Linked DNA regions of Homo sapiens. The protein of the gene in region 1 purifies or fractionates together with the protein of each later gene. This does not show direct contact. Each region holds a gene or a part of one and is shown in the gene's direction. Other genes may lie near its edges.

What was found.
Region 2: the proteins of ZBTB8OS (region 1) and ATP8A2 fractionate together in Homo sapiens (co-fractionation; one large-scale study listed by BioGRID). This does not show direct contact.
Region 3: the proteins of ZBTB8OS (region 1) and PAGE2 purify together in Homo sapiens (affinity purification with mass spectrometry; one large-scale study listed by BioGRID and IntAct). This does not show direct contact.

Annotation. Positions count from the first base shown.
Region 1 is NC_000001.11:32,644,043-32,647,692, reverse strand, and holds part of ZBTB8OS (protein archease), read left to right. Parts: intron 1-3,650. UniProt on the Homo sapiens protein: Component of the tRNA-splicing ligase complex required to facilitate the enzymatic turnover of catalytic subunit RTCB. Together with DDX1, acts by facilitating the guanylylation of RTCB, a key intermediate step in tRNA ligation.
Region 2 is NC_000013.11:25,374,936-25,378,585, forward strand, and holds part of ATP8A2 (phospholipid-transporting ATPase IB), read left to right. Parts: intron 1-3,650. UniProt on the Homo sapiens protein: Catalytic component of a P4-ATPase flippase complex which catalyzes the hydrolysis of ATP coupled to the transport of aminophospholipids from the outer to the inner leaflet of various membranes and ensures the maintenance of asymmetric distribution of phospholipids.
Region 3 is NC_000023.11:55,087,574-55,091,951, forward strand, and holds the start of PAGE2 (P antigen family member 2), read left to right. Parts: upstream 1-1,444; 5' UTR 1,445-1,530; exon of another isoform or gene 1,531-1,672; intron 1,673-2,439; 5' UTR 2,440-2,447; coding exon 2,448-2,531; intron 2,532-2,928; coding exon 2,929-3,037; intron 3,038-3,758; coding exon 3,759-3,884; intron 3,885-4,378.

The DNA of each region.
Region 1 (3,650 bases):
GCCTAGATCCCTCAATGTGCAGTTCACAATAGTGTTCAAGCTCCTATGAGAATCTAATGCTGTGCCTGATCTGAAAGGAAGTGGAGCTCAGGCAGTAATGTTAGCAATGGGGAGCTGTTGTAAATATAGAAGAAGCTTTGTGAGCTCATGTCCTGCTGTGCTGCCTGGTTCCTAACAGGCCACCAACTGGTACTGGCCAGGGGGTTGGGGACCCCCTGCATTGACCCTTTCTTTCTTTTCTTTTTTTTTTTTTTTTGAGACAGAGTCTCGCTTTGTCATCCAGGTTGGAGTACAGTGGCATGATCTCCAGTCACTGCAACCTCTGCCCCCCAGGTTCAAGTAATTCTTCTGCCTCAGCCTCCTGAGTAGCTGGGACTACAGACATGCACCACCACACCTGGCTAATTTTTTTTTTTTTTTTTTTTTGAGACAGAGTAGCTGGGATTACAGGTATGCACCACCGTGCCTGGCTAATTTTGTATTTTTAGTAGAGATGGGGTTTCTCCATGTTGGTCAGGGTGGTCTCGAACTTCCAATCTCGAACTTCCAATCTCAGGTGATCCGCCCGCCTCGGCCTCCGAAGTGCTGGGATTACAGGCGTAAGCCACCACGCCTGGCATTTTTTTTTTTTTTTTTTTTTTTTTTTTTTTTGAGACAGTATCTTGCTCTGTCTCCCAGGCTGGAGTGCAGTGGCACCATCTCAGCTCACAGCAACCTCCGCCTCCTGGGTTCAAGTGATTCTCTTGCCTCAGCCTTCCGTATGGCTGGGATTACAGGTGCCCACCACCACACCCGGCTAATTTTTGTGTTTTTTTTTTAGTAGAGACAGGGTTTCACCATGCTGGCCAGGATGGTCTTGAACTCCTGACCTCAAGTGATCCGCCCACCTGAGCCTCCCAAAGTGCTGGGGTTACAGGCATGAGCCACCACTCCCGGCCAACCCTTTTTTTTATGGCTTCTAAGATAAGAAGTCATACTCAGGGAATGCCTTGTCCACTGAGATTTTAAAATAATTTTCCTAATTTTTTTTTTATACATTTGAAAATAGAACTTTTGGCCGGCGGATCACGAGGTCAGGAGATTGAGGCCATCCTGGCTAACATGGTGAAACCCTGTCTCTACTAAAAATACAAAAAAATTAGCCGGGCGAGGTGGCGGGCGCCTGTAGTCCCAGCTACTCGGGAGGCTGAGGCAGGAGAATGGCGTGAACCCGGGAGGCGGAGCTTGCAGTGAGCCGAGATTGCACCACTGCACTCCAGCCTGGGCAACAGAGTGAGACTCTTTCTCAAAAAAAAATAATAATAAAATAAAAAACTTTAATTGAATAACCTGGAATTAGATACCAAGAAAAAAAAATCTTTTTTTTTTTCCCTGAGACAGTCTCATTCTGTCACCCAAGCTGGAGTAGTGCAGTGGTGCGACTTTGACTCACTACAACCTCTGCCTCCTGGACTCAAGTGATCCTCCAACCTCAGCCTCTTGAGTAGCTGGGATTACAGGCGTGCACCATCATACCCAGCTAATTTTTCATTTTTAGTAGTGATGGAGTTTCACCATGTTGGCCAGGCTGGTCTCGAATTCCTGACCTCAGATGATCTGTCTGCCTTGGCCTGCCAAAGTGCTGGGAGTACAGACGTGAGGCACTGCACCCAGCCAAAATACATCTTTTATTGAAGTATGATGTACTTATAGAAGAGTGCCCGTGTCATAAGTGAATTTTCAGAAACTGAGTACACTTGTATAAGTAGTATAATAGTTCTCAAAATGTAATCTCTGTATTCCTGGGGTTCCCTATATCCTTCCAGAGGGTCTGTGATGTCAAAACTATTTTCATAATAATACTGAGGTGTTATTGTTTTCACTGTGTTGATATTTGTACTGGTGGTACAAAATCAGTGGTTGGTAAAACTGGCCCCAGCCTGTAGTCCCAGCTACTCCAGAGGCTGAGGTGGGAGCATCACTTGAACCCAGGAGTTTGAGACTCGGCTTGGTCTTTTGGAGCTATAATTGTACCACTGCACTCTATCCTGGGCTACAGAGTAAGGCTGGGCTCTATCTTTTGGAGCTATAATTGCCCCCACTGCACTCCATCCTGGGCTACATAGCAAGACTCTGTCTGTGAAAGAAAAAGCAAAAACAAAATCTCTTGGCCCTTTAGTACAAATTGAGACAGCAGCACCAAACTGTATGCTAGAAAGGGTCTCCCTCTGTCTCCCAGGCTGGAGTATAGTGGCGCTGTCATGGCTCACTGCAAGCTTGAGCTCCTAGGCTCAAGCTGTTCTCCCACCTCAGCCTCCTGAGTAGATGGGACTACTGTCTATGCCTGGCTACTACACCTAGCTAATTATGTTATTTTTTATAGAGATGGGGTCTTGTCGTGTTGCCTAGGCTGATCTTGAAATCCTGGCCTTAAGCAATCGTCCTGCCTTGGCCTCCCAAAGTGCTGGGATTACAGGTGTGAGCTACTGCACCTAGCCCTAAGGACATTCTTGAATGAAAATGACTTTTTTTTTTTGAGATGAAGTCTCACTCTGTTGACAGGCTGGAGTGCAGTGGCGCCATCTCGGCTCACTGCAACCTCCTCCTCCCAGGTGCAAACAATTCTCCTGCCTCAGCCTCCTGAGTAGCCAGGACTGCAGGCACACGCCACCATGCCCAGCTAATTTTTGTATTTTTAGTAGAGACGGGGTTTCACCATGTTGGCCAGGATGGTCTCAATCTCTTGACCTCGTGATCTGCCCACCTCGGCCTCCCAAAGTGCTGGGATTACAGGCGTGAGCCACCGTGTCTGGCTGCCTTTTTATTATTATATTATTTTTAATTTTAAGTGCGTGGTAGTAAATTAAACACCTGGGTGAGGTGGCTCGTGCCTATAATCCTAACACTTTGGGAGGCCTAAGCCGGAGGATTTCTTGAACCCAGGATTTCCAGATTAGTCTGGGCAACACAGTGAAACACATCTCTACAAAAAAAAAAAAAAAAAAAAAAGCTGGGTGTGGTGGCATGTGTGTGTAGTCCTGTAGTCGCACCTACTGGGGAAGCTGAGCCAGAAGGATTGTTTGAGCTCAGGCGTTCAAGGTTGCAGTGGGTTATCATCATGCCACTATACTCCCGGCCTGGGTGACAGAGTCCCTGACTCCAAAAAAAAAAAAAAAAAAGGAAAAAGAAAAGAACATTCTTAGGATAGAAGCAGTGGCTCACACCTATAATCCCAACACTTTGGGAGGCTGTAATGCCCAACCTGGTATTTACTAACTCTGTTTTTAGACTCTCCCTTTTCCCTTAATCACCTAGTCTTGTTTCCACCTGAATTGACTCTCCCTTAGCTAAGAGAGCCAGAGAGACTCCATCTTGGCTCTTTCACTGGCAGCCCCTTCCTCAAGGACTTAACTTGTGCAAGCTGACTCCTAGCACATCCAAGAATGCAATTAACTGATAAGATACTGTGGCAAGCTATATCCGCAGTTCCCAGGAATTCGTCCGATTGATAAACGCCCAAAGCCCCGGATCTATCACCTTGTAATAGTCTTAAAGCCCCTGCACCTGGAACTGTTTACTTTCCTGTAACCATTTGTCCTTTTAACTTTTTGACTACTTTACTTCCGTAAAATTGTTTTAACTAGACCCCCCCTCCCCTTCCTAAACCAAGG
Region 2 (3,650 bases), on another chromosome or scaffold:
AGTATATGCTGAGCTGTATACTATTTTTAAAAATAATTCTGGAATATTTTCTTGTCTGAGCCATCTTTGACTCTTATCTTGTTCTGCATATTCAATTGCACTTTGATCAGTTTTAGCTTTCCCCAAATATCTACTTGGTGCCAGTGTGTCTCATTTTACCAAATGATGAAAATCCAAAGATTTGTGACCATGGGGATCCTCTTGCCCGTATAGTGCTTACAGTCTGCTCAGGGTGGAGCCCCTTAGAATGGAAACAAAGTCAGTGACAAATATATATCAGTGCCTTCTATGTGCCCGGCATGGTTCTAGGTGCTAGAGACAGAGCAGGGAACACAGCAGTGTGTCTCACAGAGCTTATGGTCTAGGCAGTGACTACAGTGCACGTGGGAAGAGCTCTCAACTCTCTTCTCTCACCTTGACCCAGATGAGTAAGGAAATTAAGGGTGTACATGTGAATATGGGTGTTGGGGGTTGTGGGAGGGGAGGAGTGGGGACAGAAAGGAAGGAAGTTGTTTTCTATGGACGACAGCATCAGTGCTGTCTATGGCAGAAGCTCTTCCCTATCTTACCGCATTTCTGGACTTAGTGAAAGAACGGGCAGGCAGGAAGTGCACAGACCAAGTGCAGAACCCAGAGGACTACAAATATTCTTTTTTTTTTTTTATTTTGAGCCTGTCGTCAGGCTGGAGTGCAGTGGTGTGATCTCGGCTCACTGCAACCTCCGCCTCCCGGGTTCAAGCAATTCTGCTGCCTCAGCCTCCCAAGTAGCTGGGATTATAGGCTCCCACCACCACACTCAGCTAATTTTTGTATTTTTAGTAGATACGGGGTTTCACCATGTTGGCCAGGATTGTCTCGATCTCTTAACCTCGTGATCCACCCACCTCGACCTCCCTAAGTGCTGGGATTACAGGCGTGAGCCACCGTTTGGACCAGGACTACAAACCTTCTAGAAACTGCCCCTGGAGCCCTCCTCTAAATTCCACACCCAACTCACCCTGCCCTCTGCTGGTCATCAAAGGTATTTTTTAATGTGTGTTTTCTGTTTTTGCCAGAACAACCTGCCCCAAGTTTCAAGGAGGAGAATCAGGGCAGCTGAAAATACAAGCCGTGCTAATGTGAGAATGTAATAGCTGGAGGATATCTCAGAGATGGTCTGATCCCTTCACTTTACAAATGAAAAAAAAATTCGGAGAAATTCCTTACTTGCTGCTTAATTTCTGTCAGGACAAGCTAATTAGCAAGTCCAGTGTGGTTCTTATCATTGCCCACCTGCCTAGTTCAATATCAGATCTAAATGCAACAGAATACGCTCATTGATTCTATATGGTTTTCTCTTCCTTGATAAGAAATAAAGATAATAATCTAATTTCTCCTGCTTCCATTTCCTATACTACCCTTTGTGTGCTCAGTAATTACAGATTTTACTGAACTCTGTCATGGGCAGTTTTTGGACTTGGTCTAATGGTCTAGATTCTGTTTGGAAGTTTCTTAAGGGCAGTATATCTAGGGGTTAAAACCCCAGAATTTAGGGTTAAAGAGAATTGAATTCAGGTTTTAACACTGTCATTTCTACCTATATGGCATTCAAAAGATTCATTTACCTCTGTTACAGATAAAGATAAAAATAAGAATTTGCACTTCATGGGTGGTTGGTAGTGGTCTGTGGGTATGTGCATATAAGTGCATGCACTAACTGACACATTATCAAGATGATATCGACAACATGTTAGATTTCTCCCATGCTGCCCATCGTCATCTAAGGCAAAGTCCTCCAGCTAGGTATTTATCCTATGTAATAGAAGAATTGGCAAAACTTTTGTTATTATTTTCCTTTCTAAATCTAATGATGGAGGCCTAACTAGGAGAGGACCTCATAGTCATCACAGGAGAATTTAAATGTTCTTTTACTGTCATTATCCAGGTGTAAATGATTGCAGAAATAAGCGCTTACTCACCAGGAGCTCTGATTCTGGACAGAGTGTTCATCCTGTAGTGGCTCTGAAGGTCATCACCTTCTGTTGAAAGAAGTCCTGACTACAAGGCCGTCTTCTACCCCACAGGTGGCCAATAAGCACCTCTGCGGACGCCTTCCGTTGTCCAGTAATTGATTTTACATTTACAACGGATGTGTTATCTTAAACCCTCCTCAGAGGTGCCAGCTAGACAAATGGAATATTTTACAGTTATTTTCGAAAAAGTTTTTAAGCATTTATGAGACGAAGTGTATACAGTGCCTCTAAAGAAGGGTCTCTATTCTTCCTCCTTGGATCTTTACATTTACTAAATATAACTTCTGGTCAATACCACACTGGATACAAGATGTTATTTACATCCACTTAGGCTGGGAAAAGTGCTCAGCACAAATGTTAACAACCATTAAGAAGGGCTAAAAATAAAAGTGATCTCACTTCCATGCCTTGGGAGTTTCTCCCCATCATTATCAAGGGCAAACACAGAAACAGGACCTACTCCAGGACAGGAGAGAGCCCTTCCAGGAATAGAGTAAGGAGTGGGGACCTGTCACACCCCAGTGGCTGCCTGGGTCTGCCTGCATAGATCTGTCGTAAAAGTACCTGGATGGCTGGGCACAGTGGCTCATGTCTGCAATCCCAGTACTTTGGGAGGCCGAGACGGGTGGATCATATGAGGTCAGGAGTTCAAGACCAGCCTGGCCAACATAGTGAAACCCTAAAAGTACAAAAATTAGCCAAGTGGTAATGGTGCGTGCCTGTAATCCCTGTAACTCGGCAGGCTGAGGCAGGAGAATGACTTGAGTCTGTGAGGTGGAGGTTGTGGTGAGCCAAGATTGCACCATTGCACTCCAGTCTGGGCAACAGGGTGAGACTCTCTCTCTAACAAAACAAAACAAAGCAAAACAAAACAAAACAGTACTTGAATGGCCAAGCCTGTTGGCTCACGTGTGTAATCTCAGCACTTTGGGAGGCCCAGGTGGGAGGTTCACTTGAGGCCAGGAGTTCGAGACCAGCCTGTACAACATAGTGAGACCCCATCTCTACAAAAAAATTATAAATAGCCAGGCATTGTGGCACATGCCTGTAGTCCCAGCTACTTGAGAGGCTGAGGCAGAAGGATTGCTTGAGCCCAGGAATTTGAGGCTGCAATGAGCTACTGCACCAGTGCATTCCAGCCTGGACAACAGAGCGAGACCCTTCCTCTAAAGAAAAAAAAAAAGAGCACATGAATGATGCTGGTCACTCCCCAGCTGTGGTGGGGGAGGGTTACTGGGCCCAATATTACCATAGATACATGTGTGCTTGTTTATGTGAATAGGTCTCTTGCTCTGACGGTTCATTTCTTCCCTCCCTTACTGCCCCTGTAAAGCTTATCATATAATATTTCATGCTAAAAAGTGATCTAATCCTCATTAACTCTGTTTTTTTTCCAGAGTTTTGCATTTTTTTTTTTGTAATCATTAGTTTATAAATACTGCCCATTTTGCTTTCCATCACAATCATTCCCAGGTGAGTGTAGAAAAAGCTGCATTCAGGAATATGGTAAAATATTGCAGGAAGATTTATGCCATTTTGATTGGTTTGTTTCAGGTTGCCTGAATTTTTAATACCCCTTTCTTGTCACAGAGAAGAGAACTTTGTTATTTTTGGCTTTCACTGGAGTTCTCACTTCAG
Region 3 (4,378 bases), on another chromosome or scaffold:
GGTACTTTAATAGGAATATCATTGAATGTATGAATTGCTTTGGTCAATTAGGCCATTTTGCCAGTATTGCTTATTCCTGTTCACGAGCATGAAATGTTTTTCCATTTGTTTGTGTCATCTCTGATTTCTTTGAGCAGTGTTTTGTAGTTCTCATAGTAGAGATTGTTCTCCTCCCTCGTTAGCTGTATTCCTAGGTATTTTATTTTTTTTTTTTGTGGCAATTGTGAATGGGATTGTGTTTCTGATTTGGCTCTGCGCTTGAAGGTAGTTGGTGTACAGAAACACTTCTGGTTTTTATACATTAATTTTGTATCTTGAAGCTTTCCTGAAGTTGTTTATAAGATCAAGGAGCTTTTGGGCAGAGATTCTGGGATTTTCTAGGTATAGAATCACATGGTTTCCAAACAGATTGTTTGACTTGTGTGAAAAACATAGTGGAGTAGAAGCAAACACGTGTCAGCAATGGAATAGAAAAATAAAAGTGCCCATGAATAAATTTAATTTGAATGTGAAGAACTAATATGAAGCAAATAACACAATCATTGTGTGGGATATGTTAAAAGACTTGAGGAATTGAGGAGTGGCTTTTTTTTTTTGATAGAGAGATTCTAAAATAGAAAGATGGCTATTGTCCCAGAGTTAACATGTAATATAAAAATAATAACTAGTGTCTCAACAGTAATATTTTAGCACCTGATCAAATGATTCTGAAGTTCATCTGAAAGACCAACGTGTCAGAATTGATAGAAAAGGAGAAATCAATGAGGGAGGGCAAGCATTATTTCACATTTCAAATATAATTAAGCTACAGCAATTAAAATAGTGTAGTAGTGGTACAGGTATAAACAACTCAATGGAAGAAAATTAAAAGAAGAGAGTTACATACAAAATTGAGTGGGGATGTAGGTGATGATAAGAGCCATTTCAAAACAGTGGGTGAAACAGGGATTCAACAAATAATGTTGAGTTCCTACCACTTTAATTTTGTCCAGATGGATCAAAGATTTTGAACGTACAATAATGCAACCAAAAACTATGAATGTCTTATGATATTGCAGTGGGTGAGACCATTGCAAGCATGACAGCAAACTCGTGAAGGAGGCAAGAAAATGATTTATGGAAGCGTATATAAAACAGGTATTAAAATATTTAAGATTTATTTCTATGATGGTGAATTTTTCTGAAACACATTATTAGAGTAACCTGAGGCTCATATTCTCTAACGCCACTGGAAGTGAAAGAAAGGGTGGGCGGGGAAAAAAGAAAAGTGCTTTGCAAGTTCATTTTCGTTGTCAGGAGCGCTGGTGGTTTACTCCACAGAGGCAGGAAAACTTCAGTCACGAGGCGAATACCCCACTCAGTGCGCATGCTGCACAGACCTGTTGGTGCCCATGTCTGTTGCTATGCGTGTCTGTTGTTGCGCAGGCGCCTTGCTGCCCGTCTTGTGTCCGCACAGAGGTCTGCAAGGAGAGAGAGTGTCTTCATTCTTTCCGCCATCTTGATTCTTTCTCACTGACCAAGACTCAGCCGGTAGGTCTGCAGAACGGTGTTACTGGGAATTTAGTTGTGAGAGAATGTGTGGAGGAGCCAGCTGGCTTTGGACAGGTCCTGCGGCACAGTCTGTGGCTTCTGAGGGAAAAGGGCCTCGGGGCCGTCATCCAGCTCCTCCCAGGTCGCGACGCCACCATGGGACTTGTCCTGACTGGGCTGGGATGAGGGAGGAAGGTGGGCCGCAGAGGGGAGGGATTGCCTGAAGATGGGGCAAGTGCTGGGGGTGCAGTTAGCGGTGTTTGAGTCTCGAAAACTCCTGGAACCCTCTGAGAGAGGACAGTTTCCAAACTCCTCAGTAGGGACGCGGGAAGGGACCGTGTGGTCAGTAACGAAGGGGCTTGGGAACTGGGAGCGCGGTGGGCTGGTGACTGTGGCCCCGAGGTCTGTAGAGTGCCTGGCAGAGGTGTCCTGTGAGGAGCATAACGTTCACTCTGTTTCACAATTTCTCACCTCCGCCATGGACATCATAGGAAGGAATGGGCGAGGCTGTGCTTTCCAACAAGACTTGATTTTGAGAGGGGTGTGGGGGTGAAATGGGCCTAGCAAATCAGAGTGGGACAAAAGCAGTAGTCATTTCAGTTTCAATTCTCTGCCCGTTTTTTCCTAAATGTCTTCATGATGGAGAGTCTAATTGTGAAACCAAAACGCAGAAATGTCCTCTGTCTTTTGCTATGGCGTTAAGGGGATTTCTATGCCTCTTCGACTATGATACAAACAAATCTGTCCTTAGTTTGATTCGAAAGCATGTGTACTTATCATTGCTCTGTGACTTAATTTGAAAATATTTTCAAAATTAAAAAAGTACAAATCACCATTTTGCCGTGGAATGTTCATATATATAACTAAGTTCTTACACACTTTTTCCAAATAACAATATTCTGTTTGCAGTGGGAAATATGAGTGAGCTTCTAAGAGCAAGATCCCAATCCTCAGAAAGAGGAAATGACCAAGAGTCTTCCCAGCCGGTTGGATCTGTGATTGTGAGTCTTTTAACATTTGATGTTTTCTATTAACACAATTTATTTTAAAAATATTTTTGAGCTAGTATACATACACTGATACAGGTGTTCCATGCTGATAAAAAATGATGATGGCATCTCATGAAGGAAACTTTGGTTCAGGAATACTATATTCTGGTGTTACCTGTATGGATATGGATATTTCTCTCTCTCTCTCTATCTCTATGTATGTATCTGTCTGTCTGTCTATCTATCTATCTATCTATCTATCTATCTATCTATCATCTATCTATCTATATGTGTGTGTATGTGTTTATATATGTTGGAAAAATGTCTTTAGATGTGTGATTCGATGCACATATGCATTTGTGTATTTATATTATTGACTTTTTATTCACACACACACTTACACCCTTAGGTCCAGGAGCCCACTGAGGAAAAACGTCAAGAAGAGGAACCACCAACTGATAATCAGGGTATTGCACCTAGTGGGGAGATTGAAAATCAAGCAGTGCCTGCTTTTCAAGGTGAAGGGAGAGTGGAAAATAATGCTTATGGGTGGTGGAGGTCTATTTATGCATTGTATTTTATGACATACCAGTAACAGGAGGACAGAAAGCATTAGGAAGGAATCTTAAACATTTCCTACTGCTGCTGTGTGGAGGGGTGGGACAAGGATGCATAAAAAGCCACTAAGCTTTCCTACCACTTTGATGGAGGCTTTTTATTGATTGGGTATTTTCATGGTTGCCATAAACCTTTTTCCAGAGCTCCTGTATGCTTTGTTCAGCCATTTTCTGTTTTTTGTTGCTGTGGAAGAATGGCAGCTTGCAGCTTCCTAGTCTGCCATCTGTGGACACGTCATGTATTTTTTAAGAAACTTTTTAACACACCTTTATTGATGCTTCCTCATACCACGTAATATACTAAGTGCTGGAGATGTCAGTGCCAAATTTTTGCCTAAAGCTCATAGTCTAGTCAGACTGACTCAAACAAATGGCTGATTTAATGTGATAAGAATAAGAACAAATGAGTATAAAAGGGACAAGTAAGTTGTCTAGGGCCAGCCTTGGGAAAGAAAAGGGCAATGTTCGAATATCTCTGCTTTCCTGTTTTCCTGGCAGCAGATTCCTGAAATAATTAGCCTACCGGTTTTTATTTCATAATGATGAGGGAATAAATACTATCATTTCCTCGTTCATAGTTCATGTTTTAATTTGTAAATTGATGACCTTTTTATCTTTTAAGGGCCTGACATGGAAGCTTTTCAACAGGAACTGGCTCTGCTTAAGATAGAGGATGAGCCTGGAGATGGTCCTGATGTCAGGGAGGGTATTATGCCCACTTTTGATCTCACTAAAGTGCTGGAAGCAGGTTTGTTATTCATTTAAGATGCAAACTATTGTATTTCTATTTTCACAGTATTTTGTGTGACACAGAGGTAAAATTACTGCTACTTTAATATCATACTTCACGTCTGAAGGTTCTTTGAATGTAGTTCAGACCCCAAATGGCTGCCTTACACACTATCAGGGATAGAGGGCCAGGTGTGGTGGCTCATGCTTTTAATTCCAGCACTTTGGGAGGCCGAGGCAGAAGGATCACTTGAGGCCAAGACTTCAAGAGACAGAGAAAAATTGGGTCAAAACTAATTGGATTACGATATGAAAGAAATGAAACATGCTAAAACAGTAGATTTCAAGTGTCTTCACAGCTATATGAAGTAATGCATATATTAATTAGCTTGATGTAGCCATTTTACAATGTGTATATATATATATTTAAAACGTCATGTTTTACATGATAAATATATACAATTTTATGTGTCATTTTTAAAGAAAGATGAAAACGTGTTCTGACTTTTAAAT